Regions from separate parts of the Homo sapiens genome. Here all the other regions are linked to region 3. Evidence: fine-mapped expression QTL. A gene starts in region 3. Each other region holds a variant in brackets. All regions are shown on one strand. Distances are from middle to middle.

Region 1 (4,417 bases), 110 kb before region 3:
TGTTTTTCTTATAGAATTATCAGAAAGTAATGCTTTTTTGAAATGTTGTTTCACTAAAATATTTTTAATTTGTTTTCTTGGTATTTCGTTATGACAATTTTTTCCTTCTACCTCAACTGCCGTACTGTCAGCATTTCCTGAGGGTCCGATAAGTAGGGAAATGCACCAAGAAGCAACGTGGACCAAGCAATAAAAATAAACAAATAAAAGAAGAAAATCCCACTGCAAAAAAGTCTGAAACAGAATTCTTGACTCCCCGACATTCATCCCTGCCTCAGCCTGTCCCCCATTTCACCCTCCTTATTTCCACACAGGGCTGTGCATCCCTACTCGCTCAGATCTAAAACTCTACACCCTATGCCCAACTCCTCTTTCCTGCACACTTCCTACCAGCCCATCAGAAAGCCTGCTGACTCCTCTCCTGAAGCACTGCGTGAGGGTGACCCCTCCTCCCTGTGAGCACCGCAACAGCCCCAGTGGAACCACCATCCCGGCCCCGATGCAACTGTTTCCCCACAGGGTCCCCACACATAGCCATGGTGTATCCCCTCCAAAACACCCACTCTGCCTGAACACTTCCCCAGCTCTTTATATGACTGCCTTCATTGTATCATTCATCTCTTACCTCAATTGAACTTCCTCAAAGAAGTGTCCTCACTTATTCTACATATGACAACATGAGTAACATCACTCCTTTCCCCAGACTCACTCGTCATTCCATTGCATTTCCCATTTTCTACAGTGATCACAAAGTCTGTATCTAATTGGAAAATACTTATCTGCTTTACTTATCATCTGCTTTAATTTTTAAGTTTTCTTTTTTCTTCTGGACATCAACTTCCATGTTGATGGACGCTGTTGAGCATTTCCTAGGAAGTGTTTAGGTTTGAGCTGCAAGAGCTGCCTTGTCCAAGACTGATTTCCACAGGCTGGTCTCCTGCAAAGCCTCATGGCTATGGCCAAGTGCTTAAGCTCAGATGGGGTGGTGAATTGGTGAATTACACCAGAACCCTGCCATGCCATAGAAGCTACAACTGCAAGGTTAGAAGCTCAGTGCCGTGATCTGGCCAAGTGTTGAAACTCAGATGGGGTGGTGAATTGGTGAATCATGTCACGACCCTTCCATGCCGTAGAAGCCACAACTACAAGGCTAGGAACCCAGTGTCCTGTTGAGAGACAGGACTAGCTGGATTTCCTAGGCCAACTAAGAATCCCTAAGCCTAGCTGGGAAGGTGACCACATCCACCTTTAAACACGGGGCTTGCAACTTAGCTCACACCCGACCAATCAGGTAGTAAAGAGAGCTCACTAAAATGCTAATTAGGCAAAAACAGGAGGTAAAGAAATAGCCAATCATCTATCACCTGAGAGCACAGTGGGAGGGACAATGATTGGGATATAAACCCAGGCATTTGAGCCGGCAATGGCTACGCTCTCTGGGTCCCCTGCCTTTGTATGGGAGCTCTGTTTTCACTCTATTAAATCTTGCAACTGCACACTCTTCTGGTACATGTTTGTTACGGCTCGAGCTGAGCTTTCACTCACCATCCACCACGGCTGTTTGTCGCTGATGCAGACCTGCCACTGACTTCCACCCCTCCGGATCTGACAGGGTGTCTGCTGTGCTTCTGATCCAGTGAGGCACCCGTTGCTGCTCCGGATCAGGCTAAAGGCTTGCCATCGTTCCTGCACGGCTAAGTGCCCAGGTTCATCCTAATCGAGCTGAACACTAGTCGCTGTGTTCCACGGTTCTCTTCCATGACCCACAGTTTCTAATAGAGCTATAACACTCACCACATGGCCCAAGATTTTCCATTCCTTGGAATCCGTGAGGCCAAGAACCCCAGTTCAGAGAACAAGAGGCTTGCCGCCATCTTGGAAGTGGCCTGCCACCATCTTGGCAGCTCTGGGAGCAAGGAACCCTGGTAACATTCTGGTAACCATGAAGGGACCTCCAAAGTGGTGAGTAATATTGGACCACTTTTGCTTGCTATTCTGTCCTATCCTTCCTTAGATTGGAGGAAAATACCGGGCACCTGTCAGCCAGTTAAAAACAATTAGCATGGCTGCTGCTAAGACTCAGGTGTGAGGCTGTCTGGAGAAGGGCTTTCTAACAACCCCCAACCCTTCTGTGGTCTGCCTGGAACCAGCTTCCACTTTCAATTTTCTTGGGGAAGCCAAGGGCAGACTAGAGGCAGAAAGCTGTTGTTCCAAACTCCCTGAATTAGCTGGTTGAGATCATGGTGCAGCCAGAAGTCTCTATTCTACATGTGTGCACCCCTACCTTTCCTTCTGACCCATACTTCCTGGGTCCCAACCATGACTTTCTTGAAAGTGTAGCCCCAAAATTCTCCTTACCTCTGAATCTACTTCCTCCAATCCCTGCCTCCTAAGTACTAATGGTTCAGACTTTC[C/G]TTTTTCCTCTAGCAAGTTGTATCTCCAAAGGGATCTAGGGAAGCTCTACGCTGCATCCTCAGGCATCTAGGCTATAAACCCAGGGAGTCTTAGTGTCCCTCCTGATTTAGGTATACAGCTCTCAACATGGGCAGTTATGTGGGACCCATTCCCCACCACTCTTGCCAGGGTCCCAAGTTTGTAAACGGCAGAGAGAGATGGGGAGAGAGAGAGAGAGAGAGAAAGAGAGAGAAACAGAGAGAGACAGAGACAGAGAGACAGAGGAGAGAGACAAAGGAGAGAGATGGAGAGGAGAGAGACAGAGAGGAGAGAGAGAGACAGAGAGGAGAAAGAGGCAGAGAGACAAGCAGGGAGTCAAAGAGAGAAGGAGAAAGATAGAAATAGTAAAAAAAAAAAAGTGTGCCCTATTCCTTTAAAAGCTAGGGTAAATTTAAAACCTATAATTGATAATTGAAGGTCTTCTCCATGACTCTATAACACTCCAATACTACCTTGTTGTCAGTGTAAACAAGGGCGTAGCCTGAAAACACTGAGACCACTGACAACCCGTAGCCTTCCTATTAAAAATCCTTAACCCAGTAACCCGTGGATGGCCCAAATGCATTCAATCTGTAGCGGCAATTGCTTTGCCAACAGAAGAAAGTAGAAAAGTAACTTTTAGAGGAAACCTCATTGTGAGCACACCTCACCAGTTAAGAATTATTCTAAGTCAAAAACCAAAAAGGTAGCTTACTAACTCCAAAATCTTAAAGTATGGGGCTATTCTGTTAGAAAAAGGTGATTTAACATTAACCACTGAAAATTACCTTAACCAAGCAGATTTCCTAACAGGGGATTTAAATCTTAATTACCATACAAAGATCCAACCAGACATAGGAGGAACTCCCTTCAGGACAGGACCATAGATGGTTCCTCCCAAATGATTGAGGAAAAAAAACACAATGGGTATCAGTAATTGATAGGGAGATTCTTGTGGAAGCAGAGTTAGGAGAATTGCCTAAAAAATGGTCTGCTCAAATGTTGGAGCTGTTTGCACTCAGTCAAGCTTTAAAGTACTTACAGAATCAAAAAACTCTATCTCAATCCTGACTCAAAAAGTTAGCTACACCGTCTCTGGAATGAATTTGCATAAGATCTGTTGTTTATGGGGATGCATCTTGATGGGACAACTGGGTTGTTATGAAATACTCAGGAACCCAGCCCAGCTCTAGGACTCACCGCTGAGCACAAAGGCAATGTTGGGCACGCTGGTAAAGGACCACTAGAATCCAGCAGCCTGGACCCCTTTCTTTGTGGTCAAGAAAGGCGGGAAAAGGGGTGCAGGACTGCTATATCAGTAAGTATAACTAAGAATTCAGCCCAGCCAGAGTGCATGTACCTTTTTCTCTCTCAGACTTAAAGCACATTAAAATAGACCTAGGTAAATTCTCAGATAACCCTGATGGCTATATTGATGTTTTACAAGGGTTAGGACAATCCTTTGATCTGACATGGAGAGATATAATGTTACTGCTAGATCAGACACTTACCCCAAATGAGAGAAGTGCCACCATAACTGCAGCCCGAGAGTTTGGTGATCTCTGGTATCTCAGTCAGGTCAATGACAGGATGACAACAGAGGAAAGAGAGTGATTCCCCACAGGCCAGCAGGCAGTTCCCAGTGTAGACCCTCATTGGGACACAGAATCAGAACATGGAAATTGGTGTCACAGACATTTGCTAACTTGCGTGCTAGAAGGACTAAGGAAAACTAGAAAGAAGCCTATGAATTATTCAATGATGTCCACTATAACACAGGGAAAGGAAGAAAATCCTACTGCCTTTCTGGAGAGACTAAGGGAGGCATTGAGGAAGCATACCTCCCTGTCACCTGACTCTTTTGAAGGCCAACTAATCTTAAAGGATAAGTTTATCACTCAGTCAGCTGCAGACAAAAGAAAAAAACTTCAAAAGTCCCCCTTAGGCCCAGAGCAAACTTAAAAACCCTATTGAACTTAGGAAC
Region 2 (4,417 bases), 21 kb after region 3:
TGCAAATAACTGAAAATCCAGCTCAATGTGACTTTAAATACAAGGCAATTTATTGACTCAGGTGGGTAGTTCAGAAGGGAGCCAGGCTTCAGGGTGAATCTGAGCAGAGAAGCTCATGAATGCTACCCAGGAATCAGTCTCTTCCTAATTTTCTGCTCTGCCTTCAGTGAAGTCAGAATCATTCTGAGTCTGGCAAAATCTCCAGGAACAATTTCTGAGGCTGTATTCTTCATCAAAGGGGGAACATGAACAAGCACACTCTTGTTCCTAACAACCTAGCACAACTTGTATTTGACTCTAATTGGAACAACTCAGGCCCTTGCCTGTCCCGAAGTCCATTAGGGGGCCAAGGGAGTGCTGTGTGGCACCTGGCATGAGCCTCAGTTATGCACCCACCTTGGAACCAATAACTGTGACACAGGATGAGACAGAGCTGGTTAGGTTAAGTCAACCAGCACCCACCCCATGTTTCAAACCATGTGACTAAATAATTCAGGGCTCTGTTAGGCAGAAGAAAGGTGGATGCTTCTTGAATAGCACCCAACACTCAACTACAATTTAATTTGACAGGAACCCAGAGGCCTTGCCCATAGAAATCTCTCACAGTTGCTTGGAGAGAGAGCACTCAATACAAAAATCTTATGGCAGCAATCTTGTGGCCTCAAGCGTGCCACGGACTTGGTGTGGAGGGTGGGGTAAGGCTCAGTGTCTTTTGAAGATGAAGCAGAAGAATAGATTGTACTGACTTAGCAGAGTGGAAAATGTTTAATCCCAAGAGATGCCTACAAAGGCAGCTGAGCCAAACCACAGACTCCTAGAAGGGCTTGGGTTAGGGTTCTCAAGTGTCTAGATAAGCAGAGGAGATCGTGAGGCAGACACAGAGGGTCGGCTCAAAGCACATTGGGAAGAGTGTGATCCCAAGTCCCCCTCATTCCACACTGGCAGTCAAATACTCTTCCCTGACATCAGAAAAAGAAACAATTTATTTTCTTCAGACATTGAAAAAGGACTTTTCTAAGTTCCAGGACATTGGGTAATGCTGCTTATGCAAAGAGAGTGTTTAGTGAAAGCCAATTTACTGAGCGGGGAGATCCACAGACTCTTTCTCCCTCTTGGCTCCCAGAATGCTGGGGTCAGGCTTGCAGTCTTAGGAGATTGGCGAACCTTTTTGGAGAGGATCTGCAGATACCAACACTTTCAGGGTTTCTTCAGGTCCAGGAGTGCCAGGCTCCCGTGGACTCTTCCTTTGGGGAAGCAAAGGAAGACTCCATCTGTGCATACAGAATGCATTAATTATATTTTCTTATTTTCTATTTTCTTGATGCTCTAGCATCTGGGGTTTACTGGAAAAAGATTGCCTTTCCCAGGGCCAGCCAATTAAACTACCAATTCAGAAACCATACTCCTAACCACCTACTTTATCTGGCTCTGATACTGTAGGAGAAAATACCTGCCTTCCCTAATCACCCCAGGGCCAGGTACTAGGCAACTAGAGATGGCCCTTATGGCCCAGAGCCTGCTGAAGTTATTCACACTGGCCAGCCTAAGCCTGCCTGCCCTGCCTGGCCTTGCTGTCCCACAGAGACCACAGCAGAGGCTACTGCCCATGCCTTCCCCTCTCTCCTTCTGCCTCTGCCTGGGGCTTCCCTTTGCCTCCTATTTCTAGGGATTCGTGAGTATGAACGGGACAGTCACTTCCATGTCTGCCGGTCCTAACATCTCTGATTAAAACAAATTCTGAGTACATTTTAAAACATAAGGCTTCCAGTGGAATTTTTAAAACCCTTATATGGAGAATTTTAAACATATATGTAAATAAACGATGACTATAACAAACTCCTATATATCTATAACCCTTCAGAACAACCAGAAGAACATGGCCACTTCTGTTCCATCTATATTCCCAAATAAAATTCATACATTGTGATTAGCTGATGTGTTTTTAAGCCTATAGAATTTATACATTTCCCCTATATCTCTTATATATCATTTTCTTGTAATTTATTTGTTGAAGAAGCTGTATTGATTTTCCTGATTCATCTTCAGAGTTTAAAATGGAATTTCACAGAAAGAAAAGCATAAAAGCAGAAGGAATA[C/A]AAATGTCAGAAAATAAATCAGTGGGATTTAAATGGTACAGCTGCTTTGGAAAACAGTTTGGCAGTTCCTCAAAAAGTAAGACAGAGAATTACTCTTTGACCCATCAATTCTACTGAAGCCTTCATACTGAAGAGAATTAAAAACATATGTCCGCACAAAAACTTATACACAGATGTCCGTAGCAGCATTATCCATAATAGCCAAAAAGTAGAAACAACCAAAACGTCCACCAACTGATGAGCGGATAAATAATATGAAGTATGTCCACACAATGGAATATTATTCAGCCTCAAAAAGGAATGGTTGTCAGAGGTTGGAGGAGGGAAAAATGGGAAATACAGCGTTTCTTTCTGGGGTGCTGCAAATGTGTTAAAATTAAATAGGGATGAAGTCTGTGCTACTTCCAGAAAGTGCTAAATTGTACACTTTACATGAGTAAAATGTAGTATGTGAATTTTATCTCAACTTAAAAATCAAGAACATTTTCCAGAAATAAAGTTTATGAATTTTCAGATTTAAAAGATCTAATGAGTTCCCCTCAACATGAATTTAAAGCACATTATTGTGAAATTTGATAACAACAGAGGTAAAGATCTGAAAAGTTTCCAGAGAGGTGAAAGAAAAAGATCACCTGCAAAGAATCAAGAACCAAAATGGCACTGAAGTTTTTCATTGAAATTCTAGATATAATAAGAAAACAAAATTTGGCCTTAACATCCTGAGAGAAATATATATATTTTAAACCCAACTAAACCGCCAACCCAGTGTGAGAATAGTGCTCAGGCATTTAGGGACATGCACAGCATCAAAGCTTTACCTTAGATCAGGAAGCTACAGTAAAGTGGCAACCTAAGAAATGGGAGAAATGAATTCCAGGAGCAGGTGATCCATGCAGGAGAGAGGAGCAGCATTGCTTCGCCGGGGTGAAGCAATTCAAGCTGGAGACACTGAGACAAACACAGGGGCGCCTGGCATTCTATGAGAGGCAGTACAGTGGTTCTCACAACTCAGTAAATGTGGCAATTACCTCTTATCTGGTTACAATGCATCTTCCCAGGCCTGCCAGCAGGGATTCTAAATCCTGATATGGCAAATGATATGGTAACACTTGTGGTTATAGACATGAGTGTTTGAATCACAGATCCAGCTCTAAACCCAAATCCCCTCAGTAATTAACTGTATACTGTCATTTAATTGCTTAATCTCTCCAGCACGCCACTTCCTCAGGCTGATTCATATGGGAATATAAATTCATTGGAGTGTTATAAAGGGTAGTTTGTACAATGCACTTGTGACTATGAAATGCTTAGCATGGCATCCAAAAAGTCCTCAATAAGTGGTGCAACAATACTTTTTTATACAGAGAACACACCCCACTCAGAAAAAAGTGTTCATAGGGGATTAAGAGAAGTAAGTACAGTTGGGTGAGCAGAGAGAGCCAGTGTGGCAAGGGCCTTTCTTAGGTGAGGCATCCACCACATTTGAAAGTGGGATGCAGGGCCAGAGCTGAACATTAACCAGGACTGGCAGGAATGAAGTAAACAGCTCACACCTGTTCCTTCATGGGTCTGTTCCTTTCATTTTCACTTTTGACTCTGATGCAAAATTAGAATTCTTCTCTGCTCAAATTTCACTATTCTTAATAAAGTACATAAGTAGGATCCAAAAACTTCAATTGTGTAAAATACATGCTTTTGTTAATGCAAGGCAAATGGGAAATATGTTGTACTTGGTCATCGCCATCACAATAACACAAATTCTAAAACATACACTGTTTACAACTGAACCACACCCTCAAATAATAAAAAAAAAAGGTCCCTCCCTAACCTCTCTCCTCAGCAAGAGAAGGAGTTTGGTTGCCCCAACCTGGGCAGGAGAGCAGGTGGAGAGTGGGAGCCCGCAGCTGCAGTGGCAAGAAGCATGAGGACTGATGGCTTTGACCAAATAACAGGGAATTGGGTTGAGTTGTTTGAATCATTTTCCAATAACTGAATTATGAAATAGATCAGACTCATTGAAGGAGCTGGGGAATGAGAGCCTACCCCTCAGTCTCCAGCCTCCCCAAACTACGTGTTTCTCCAGAGTAACCTTGAGCCTCTCCCAGCATGGATTGAAACCCATGGCTCTTCCAGATCTAAAATCTGAGGCTCTAAAATTTAAGTCACAGTTAGGCACTTCCACACCTGTGATGGTAACATGCTTACATACTCAGTCTATCATTGTTTAATATTTAATGAAAGACACACATTTTGTTTACTTATGCAGCAGCTTGCCTGTGTTCACTTGCGTTGTCTCAGGGTCAGCTCTTTATTTCCCAGAA
Region 3 (4,417 bases):
GTCACACTGTCTTCCACAGTAGTTGAACTAATTTACATTCCCATCAATGTGTGAAAACGTTCCTATTTGTCTGCAGCCTCTCTAGCATCTGTTGTTTCTTGACTTTTTATAACAGCCATTCTGACTTGCGTGAGATGGTATTTCATTGGCTTTGATTTGCATCTCTCTAATGATCTATGATGTTGAGCTTTTTTCATATGTTTGTTGGCCACATAAATGTCTTCCTTTGAGAAGTGTCTGTTCATGTCCTTTGTCCGCTTTTTAATGGGATTGTCTTTTCTTGTAAATTTAAAACAGAAATTTTTACAGGTGACAAAACAACCTGGAACGTTTGTTACCTGTCCAAAGGTAAATTGTGGACCCAGGGTCAAATTCCAGAGGTCCTGTACTTTGCAGTTCTCTGTCTTAGAAGTGCTGCTGTTGCCCATGAAGTAGTGCAAATTAGGAAAAGAAGACACTTTGGGCTACACAATTAAAAAGGTTTTTTCCTCTGACTTAGGGAACAGGCTTGCCAAGCAGAGAGCAGGCTGGACTTTAGACCTCAAGGCCCCATCCTCCCGCATCCTGTAGGAAACCATCTGTGGCAACCCAGGAGCTCCCCCTTTCTCCATCTCTGTCCCTCTCTTTCACTCCCCACCCCCGCATCCTTCCTTCTCTTCTCCCACTCTCTACTTTATTGGCCTAGACTCCTTTTCCTATGAGTCTTACATGTTCCAACGAGGCTGTCTGGGCGGTCTGGCTTTCAGGAGGCGATTTATTGTTGTGCTACTATCCCTATGAAATTTTGCTTCGCTGGGGCTCAAGGAGATTAAAGACCCCCAAGGCCCACTCAGCACCACCCTGCTGCGGTCCTCTTCCTCGTTGGTGAGGTGTTCGTGCCCACTTTGGGGGCCCATCTGCACCTGTCGCCCTCCCTGCCTTCCGGGCTGCTGCTGCTCGGAGCGTTCAACCACAAGGCTGAAAGCACAGCCTGTTACGGAGTTGTCTTCACAACGCGATAACGTGAACATTTCACATGTCTGAGAGATAACTTTAGTATTTTGTCCAAATTTTTGAAATAATGGAGTTTGGGAAGTATTTTATCTTAGACTCTTAGCATTCCTAGGCTGATCCACTGCCTGGTGAACTCGTGGTTTCCCCGTTGCCTCGGTTACCGTAAAAATAGCAATGATTCTGGACACTTGGCTGGGCTTCTTCCAAATCCACTGAGCCGCGCCTGGGGCCCCAGCCTGCCCCACTGAGAGTCCTAGCTCGGTCCTCGGGCCCGGCCACGCCCGCTGCCGGCCAGCGACCGAGTCGGACCCAATCCGAGGCCCTGCGTTCTTGCCACCCAACACGTAGGCTGATCCTGGCGTGCGCTGCGTGTTCTTTCCTCTTATGTCCTATTCCTTTCTGTTAATAAGAATATGAGCTCAGGTAGACAAAATTAAACAGTCAAGTTTCCAAACACGATGAGGTCACTTTAAGAATTCAAAGGATGTGAGGCACCTGCCCGGGGGAGGTGGGGGGACGTCCCCTCTGCTCCCCCTCCCCGGAAATGCCTGCGTCCAGCAGTGACCTCGGGGATCTGGGGCTGAGCGAGTGGGGGTTCAGAGCCTGCTCGCCCCAGCGTCCTCCAGGCGGTTGGCAGCGCCGCCGGAAGGTGAGGGGGGGCGGGGACGGCACCGGGCAGGAGGTGAGGGCCGGGACCCCGGACGCGAGGTGAGGGCGGGCGCTGGCACCCGGAGAGCGGCCAGGGAGGCGGGCCCGGGCGGGAGTGAGGAGGCGGGGACGGGCGGGGACGAGCGGGGATGCGGGGACGCGGCCAGGGCCGGGGCACCGGGCGGGGGCGGGGGCGGTGCCAGTCGGTGTGGGCGATGAGGTCGGGAGGGGCGGGAACTGGGGAGTTTCGCCAATCGGTGCAGACTCCGGTTCTCCCCAACCCCGGGCCTGGGCAGCTGGGCACTGGGGCGCCGTTCCCCACCCGGCGCGGACTTCGGAACCGGCCCTGGGACTGACTGGCTCTACCACTCGAGCGCGTCTCCGCTGGACCCGGAACCCCGGTCGGTCCATTCCCCGCGAAGATGCGCGCCCTGGCGGCCCTGAGCGCGCCCCCGAACGAGCGGCTCCTTCCCCGGGACCCCGCGGCTACCCGGGACCCCGACGCCGCGCGGCCGGCGCGCAGGAGCGCAGTGGAGAGGCTGGCGGCGGATCGCGCCAAGTATGTGCGGGGTCGGCCGGGGACTGGCCGGGGCGTCGCTTCCGAGGGCAGCGGCCCGGGGGCGATCAAGTGCCCGGGGAACGACCCTGGGCCCCCGGCCCGCGCCCCGGCCCCGGTGGCGCGCAGGGCTATTGCGCGGAAGCCGTTGAGACCGGACTCGCTGATCATCTACCGGCAGAAATGCGAATTCGTGCGAGGATCGGGCGCCGACGGCCCCAGGGCAAGCCTGGTGAAGAAGCTCTTCCAGGGGCCGGGTAAGGACAAGGCGCCGGTGCCCCGGACGGGAGACGAGGGCAAGGCCGGGAACCCGGAGACGGTCCCGACCACTCCTGGCCCCGCGGCGGACCCCGCAATCCCCGAGACCCCAGCCCCAGCCGCGCGGTCCGCGGCGCCCTCCAGTGTCCCGGCCGCGCCCCCTGGGCCAGAGCCGCGGGTGGTGAGGCGTCGGGGGCTGCAGCGCTCACAGTCGGACCTCAGCTCCCGCTATTCCGCTGCCTTGGCCGAGTCTGACACCTTCTTCCAGTACTGCGGCCTGGACCCCGAGGTGGTGGAGGCCCTGGGGAGGGAGAACTTCACCGCGGGGTCGGACTGTGTGACCCTCAAGGTGCGCAGCGTGAGCGTCGCCACCTCCGGCAGCGGCTTCTCCCGGCACAGCGGCGGCGACGACGAGGGGCTGCAGGAGGAGGAGCTGATAGAGCAGGTGCCCAGCACCACTTCGGTCATCGAGAGGAACGCCCGCATCATCAAGTGGCTGTACACCTGTAAGAAGGCCAAGGAGACCCCCAGCCAGGAGCAGAGCCGGACCCGAGGTGTGTGCCCAGAAGGCTGGGGGCGGGGCTGGCCGTGTGCGGGGCTGTGAATCTTGGTGAGTGTGACCGAGCTGGGCGATGGCCAGTTACAGCTGCTTAGAATTGAGTGCGATTTTGAGCTACAGTGTGAAAGGGACCCAAGAGACTGACGCAGAGGCTTGTGAGTTGAGCCCCCGCTGCTGAAGAGCAGAAGGTACCAATCCAGGCACCTGCTGGTCCAGGCCCTTAGGAGTCTGCTGCGTCTGGCTGCCTGGAAAGGCAATTCTGCAAATTAATATGTCCCATTTGGCTTATTATTGTGAAAACAGGAGAAATCCAAAATGCTGCCAGAAAGCAGTTTTACACCCCTAGTATTCTTTCCTGAGCTGAAAACAGCTTGAGAGCCCTAGTTCCTGAGTTCATTGACCTGTGCTGTGGGCGGTCCTGATGTTTGATTGGAGCTGACCAGTCCACCTGCAGCCCTAGGTAGGCGCTGCTGTGTTACTGGAACAGAAAGGAAGACTCCCTGCACTTTCCTGGAGGCCTGTGCTGAAGTGGTGAGAACTTCTCCACAGGATCTTGTAGCACTTTGGCATTCACTTAGCAACAAAGATCTTTATTTGGCTAAATTTTATTTAAATTGTTTTGAGAGCTTCAGGTTTTTAAACTGGGGAAATTGGACTAGATTGTAACTAGAGTCTATAGTTTATTTGCCTCTGATGACACTACAGGAAGTAACCTCCCTTTGGACAACCAGTAGTGCCGGATTGACCTCGAGCTCTTTTTGCTTTTCACTGGGGAACTGAGGAGTGCTGGTCTTCACTGTTACCTGCTCTTCCCTATGGGCGTCTTGGAAAGTAGTGAAGAGAAAGAACCTTTTCAGGGCTGTCTTTGAGAACGAACAATTTAAACTTTGCGACATCTTTTTTTTCCTCTTACCCTTCAATGACAACTTGCTATAAGTAAATTTTAAAAATCATGAGATGAAATTATTTTCTGCCATTGTGATAAACTAAGTGAAGATGCATGGCAGCCTGTAGAGTTTGGGGGAGGCTGCCCAAGAGATGTTTGCACAGGGCTCACCTATGTTTGACAGCTAAAAATATCTCCAATAATTTCTCTGGCTATGACTTTAGTACAGACATGAAAATTAATGAGAAGAAGATAATTCATTCTTTTTCTTGAACTCAGAAGGCTCAGGACTTAAGTTCTTCCTTATAATTTATAGAAGATTTGTGTTTTCCACTAGCCTAAGTTCCCAACAAATATATATAGGCAAAGTTCTAAAAAGCAAACAAACATTAATTTGTAGTTTTCACAAATTGTCTTTTGGATCTGAGATGAATGAATGCTGGCAAGGGTATTTCCATGATGGCACCATGTGTAGGGCAGGAGCTTTGGAGAGTGGCCAGGTCCGTGGAGGGACAGT
Region 4 (4,417 bases), 160 kb before region 3:
TTTTAAATGTCAGTTATTACAGCTTTTATTTGTGAAAGTTCTAGTGTCTTTTTCAAATATTATCCCTTTATTGTCTCTTGTTCTTGCTATATTTTCAGTTATTTTCTGTTATTTCTGTAGCCATATCAAACACAATCATTTTGTATTTCATGTCTGGTAACCCCATCCTGCGCCCTTGAGAGCCTGAATGTTTCTTTGCTGTTTCTCTCTCCTGGTGACTTGCTTCTTTATTTGTTGTCATTTTTATAGGAAACTGATCAATTTCCTCAGTACTATAATTATATCTGGGCTTAATGTTGCAGATTTCCAGATGAAACTTGTTTCTGCCGGTTGCTTTGGGGCTCAAGTAACCCAGAACTGCTTCATGTTGGGGCATCTAATTGGGTTTTGGACCACGAGTCTGTGTGTGTGACCTATGCCAGCACTGATGTAGGACAATTTCCAATTTTTTCTTTTGTGTGTAGAGTTTATTTCTTTTTATTCTTACACAGAGTGCATGGCCTTTGGAGTCTCAGATTATTTGGGGATCTCTGATTCATCTTCCCACCTTACACAGCCCTTGACTTCTTCTCCTGAATTTTGTATCCAGTGCAGCCTTCAGAGTCCAGTCTGCAATCTGCACCCAATCTGGGTTAGGCATTACCTTACAGGATTCCTGCCTTCACTTTGTTTTTGCTCTCTGCATTCCTATTTTTTGTGCCAGCTCAGCATTGCTTTTAAAAATATCTATTTCCTCCTGTACTTTAATGGACATGGTTACTAAAAGTATAAAATCTGGCTTACTGTTGGAAACAGTCTTTTTAACTCTTAGTTCAAGCTGCTACAGCAAAGTGCCATAGACTAGGTGGCTTGTAAACAATAGATACGCATTTCTCACAGTTGTGGAGGCTGGAGGTCCAAGATCAAGGTGCCAGCATGGTCGTGTTCTGATGAGCACCTGTTCTGGGTTGCAGGTGGTGCCTTCCTGCTGTTCCCTCACGTGGTGTAAGGTGTGAGGTATCTCTGGGGCCTCTTTTATAAGGGCTCTAATCTCATCCATGGGGCTCCCCTCCAGACCTCGTCACCTCCTCAACACCCCTCCTAACCCCGTCAAACTGGGGAGTAGATTTCAACTTAGGAGTTTGGGGGAAGACAAACATTCAGCTCACAACAGACCCTTTATTTAAGTTTTGTTAGTTTGCTTTGTTTTCATTTTCTGTTTTCTAAGGGGTTCCTTGCAATGGCTCTTCATGGGGCTGCATCTGTGTTTGCTACCCTTTTGGAGATAAGTCTGCTTTTCTATTTATTTTCTGACTTCTATCAGTTCATGGTCATTGTCTTCTGGTGTCTCATCATCTCTCCCTTGAAATGTTGCGTTCTGGATTTGTGATCTTCCTTTATAGTAGTAATGGCTGCATTAATTTTTGTGGTTGATGAAATATTTAACTGCATTATTTATTTTGTGGAAACAATTTTGGATGTTACTTAGTTCTACAACTTTCCTTCATTTCTTCCTCCCTCCCTCTCTCCCTCCCTTCCTCCCTCCCTTCCTCCCTCCCTTCCTTCCTCCCTTCCTCCCTCCCTTCCTCCCTCCCTCCCTCCCTCCCTCCCTCCTTTCCTCCCTCCCTTCCTCCCTCCCTTCCTCCCTCCCTCCCTTCCTTCCTCCCTCCCTCCCTCCCTCCCTTCCTCCCTCCCTCCCTTCCTTCCTCCCTCCCTCCCTTCCTCCCTCCCTCCCTCCCTCCCTCCCTTCCTTCCTCCCTTCCTTCCTCCCTTCCTCCCTCCCTTCCTCCCTCCCTCCCTCCCTCCCTCCCTCCTTTCCTCCCTCCCTTCCTCCCTCCCTTCCTCCCTCCCTCCCTTCCTTCCTCCCTCCCTTCCTCCCTCCCTTCCTCCCTCCCTCCCTTCCTTCCTCCCTCCCTCCCTTCCTCCCTCCCTCCCTCCCTCCCTCCCTTCCTTCCTCCCTTCCTTCCTCCCTTCCTCCCTCCCTTCCTCCCTCCCTTCCTCCCTTCCTCCCTCCCTCCCTCCCTCCCTCCCTTCCTCCCTCCCTCCCTTCCTCCCTCCCTCCCTCCCTCCCTCCCTCCCTCCCTCCCTCCCTTCCTCCCTCCCTCCCTTCCTCCCTCCCTCCCTCCCTTCCTCCCTCCCTTCCTCCCTCCCTTCCTCCCTCCCTCCCTTCCTCCCTTCCTCCCTCCCTTCCTCCCTCCCTTCCTCCCTCCCTTCCTCCCTCCCTTCCTCCCTTCCTTCCTACCTTCCTCCCTTCCCCCCCCACCCCAGTTTCCCTCTCTTTCCCATGCAAGGGATGTGGTTTGGCCCTCAGCATGCGGCACCCTCACGGCCCTGGGTCTCTGGTCACTGGGGTTTCTCTGGTTTCTGATTCTTCCCACACAGCTCGTGCCTGACCTCAACTGGGTCTGACAGTCCTTAGAATTCATGTGTAGTCTGAGGATTATATTAACACCTGTTCCTTGTTTTGCTGATAATGGGGTTTTTAAGTTTTACACTTAAAAAACTGTATTATCATGGTGGCTTTTCAGTGATTTCTGGGAATAGC[G/A]AAGAGAATGCCAACTTCTTCAGCAACGTTCATTCTGCAAGTCTACATTGATCTGTTCAAATTTTAACATGGCGACATTTTTGTGTGACTTAGAAAACATATACAACTGTCACATCAAACCCATTGTTTCCTGAATAGAGTTAGTTAGAGTAAGATAAAACCTAGTAATTTTAATTGTATTTTATGTACATTATACAAACTATAAGCAAGTACATTTAAGAATACATGTGAATATTTCAAAACTTCAGCAACTGAATTGGCTGCTACATATGTTTCGAATTTGGGGTAATGTGAATGAAATAAATTAAAAATGTATATTTTCCAAGATTCAGTTCCGTGCCCACAATTGAGATCTACACTATAATATGTGGAACATCAAATCTGGATGTGGACGGTTTTTATTATAAATATTCAAGTTGTTTCACAATAAAAATCTCCTTACCGTTGCTACATAGAGATACCTTTGCCATTGAAATTATGCTGAATTTTTCGTATGACAGTGAAAATTGCCAATTATGTTTAAGGACAGAGTACTGCATTCTCAGTTTTATAGAAAGTCACATGAAACATTTGAAATTGGGACTCTGTAAATTTTTTTTCAGAACAGGTGGTGGAGTGACGGAAAACAAACCTAGTTGTGCTCTTTCTGTACATGGTGAAATAACACCCAGCAAGAGAACAGCATATTGCTCATGAAGGCTTTTGGAAACAAAAGTATCTTGAAAAAAATAGTTACTTTCTTAATTTTGTCAAGAAATTAGCATGAGAAAATAGTGAAATAATTGTGATTTTTCAAATATAGGAGGTGGTATTTGGAGAAGGGCTTAGCATAAAAAACCAAAACACTAACTTGTCTTCTGAAATGGAAACAAATTTATCCTCATCCTAGCCTAAATGACATCTACTCAAATACCCATTTGTTGCTAACTCGTTATAAATCTCCATTTTTTAATCATTCAGAAACTATCTTTAAAGTTTCATTTTGTAAAATCCAACATGTATATTAAGGTATGTTCCATTCTTCTGTCAGTGAAAAGAGTCAAACTCTAAAATATTTTAAGAGATTTATCCTGAGCCAAGTAAGTGACCAATGGCCTGTAACACAGCCCACAGGAGATCCTGAGAACTTGCACCCATGGTGGTCAGGCTACAACTTGGTTTTATACATTTTAGGGAGACGTGAGATGTCAGTCGATACATGTGAGATGTACATTGGTTCGGTCCAGAAGGGTGGGACAACTAGAAGCGGGGGCTTCCAGATTACAGGTAGATTAAAAGATTTTCTGACTGGCAATTCATTGAAATAATTAAGCTATTATCTAAAGACTTAGAATCAATAGAAAGGAATGTCTGGGTTAAGATAACGGGTTGTGGAGACCAAGGTTTTATCATGCAGATGATAAAACCAGTAGCAGGCTTCAGAGAGAATAGATTGTAAAGGTTTTTAATCAGACTTAAGATCTGTGTTGATGTTAATGCTGGTCAGCTTTTCCTGAATTCCAAAAGGGAGGAGAGCATAATGAAGCATGTCTGACTCCCACCTTCCCATGATGGCCTGAACTAGTTTTCCAGGTTAACTTTGGAATGCCTTTTACCGAGAGAAAGGGTTCCTTCAGATGGTTGGGGGCCTTATAATTTTATTTTTGGTTTACACTTCTATTTATTTTTTTAAAATGACACATGTAAGCCCCCAGTTACATGTAAATATTTTAGTTAGTTTTTATTTATTTCAAATTATACCAATATTTCATTTAAGTTACCAATATAAGATAAGATTTCCTTTTGAAAAAGATGAAGAGAATGTGATTTTCTCATATGGAAAAAATGTGAAATTATACATGAATGACTGATGTTTGAAAAGCAGCACTATAAGAGAGCTTGGCACCTGTTTTT

The links. PIP is the estimated chance that this variant, and not a neighbour inherited with it, causes the effect.
Region 1: its variant is the best candidate, but not a certain one, in a credible set for the expression of FAM110C in whole blood (INTERVAL, PIP 0.76).
Region 2: its variant is the best candidate, but not a certain one, in a credible set for the expression of FAM110C in lung (TOPMed, PIP 0.67).
Region 4: its variant is the best candidate, but not a certain one, in a credible set for the expression of FAM110C in blood mononuclear cells (TOPMed, PIP 0.59).

Annotation. Positions count from the first base shown.
Region 1 is chr2:157,536-161,952 of GRCh38, reverse strand. LOC105373324 (a long non-coding RNA gene) reads left to right here. Exons shown (of 4, transcript XR_922689.3): 4 at 1-1,229. Among named protein-coding and RNA genes, the nearest start is that of SH3YL1, 100 kb to the left of the region's middle. The variant C/G (reference allele first, on the strand shown) is at 2,415.
Region 2 is chr2:23,486-27,902 of GRCh38, reverse strand. No RefSeq gene overlaps it. Among named protein-coding and RNA genes, the nearest start is that of FAM110C, 21 kb to the left of the region's middle. The variant C/A (reference allele first, on the strand shown) is at 2,097.
Region 3 is chr2:44,032-48,448 of GRCh38, reverse strand. FAM110C (family with sequence similarity 110 member C) reads left to right here and starts at 1,944. Exons shown (of 2, transcript NM_001077710.3): 1 at 1,944-3,009. The coding sequence starts at 2,064.
Region 4 is chr2:204,812-209,228 of GRCh38, reverse strand. No RefSeq gene overlaps it. Among named protein-coding and RNA genes, the nearest start is that of SH3YL1, 57 kb to the left of the region's middle. The variant G/A (reference allele first, on the strand shown) is at 2,525.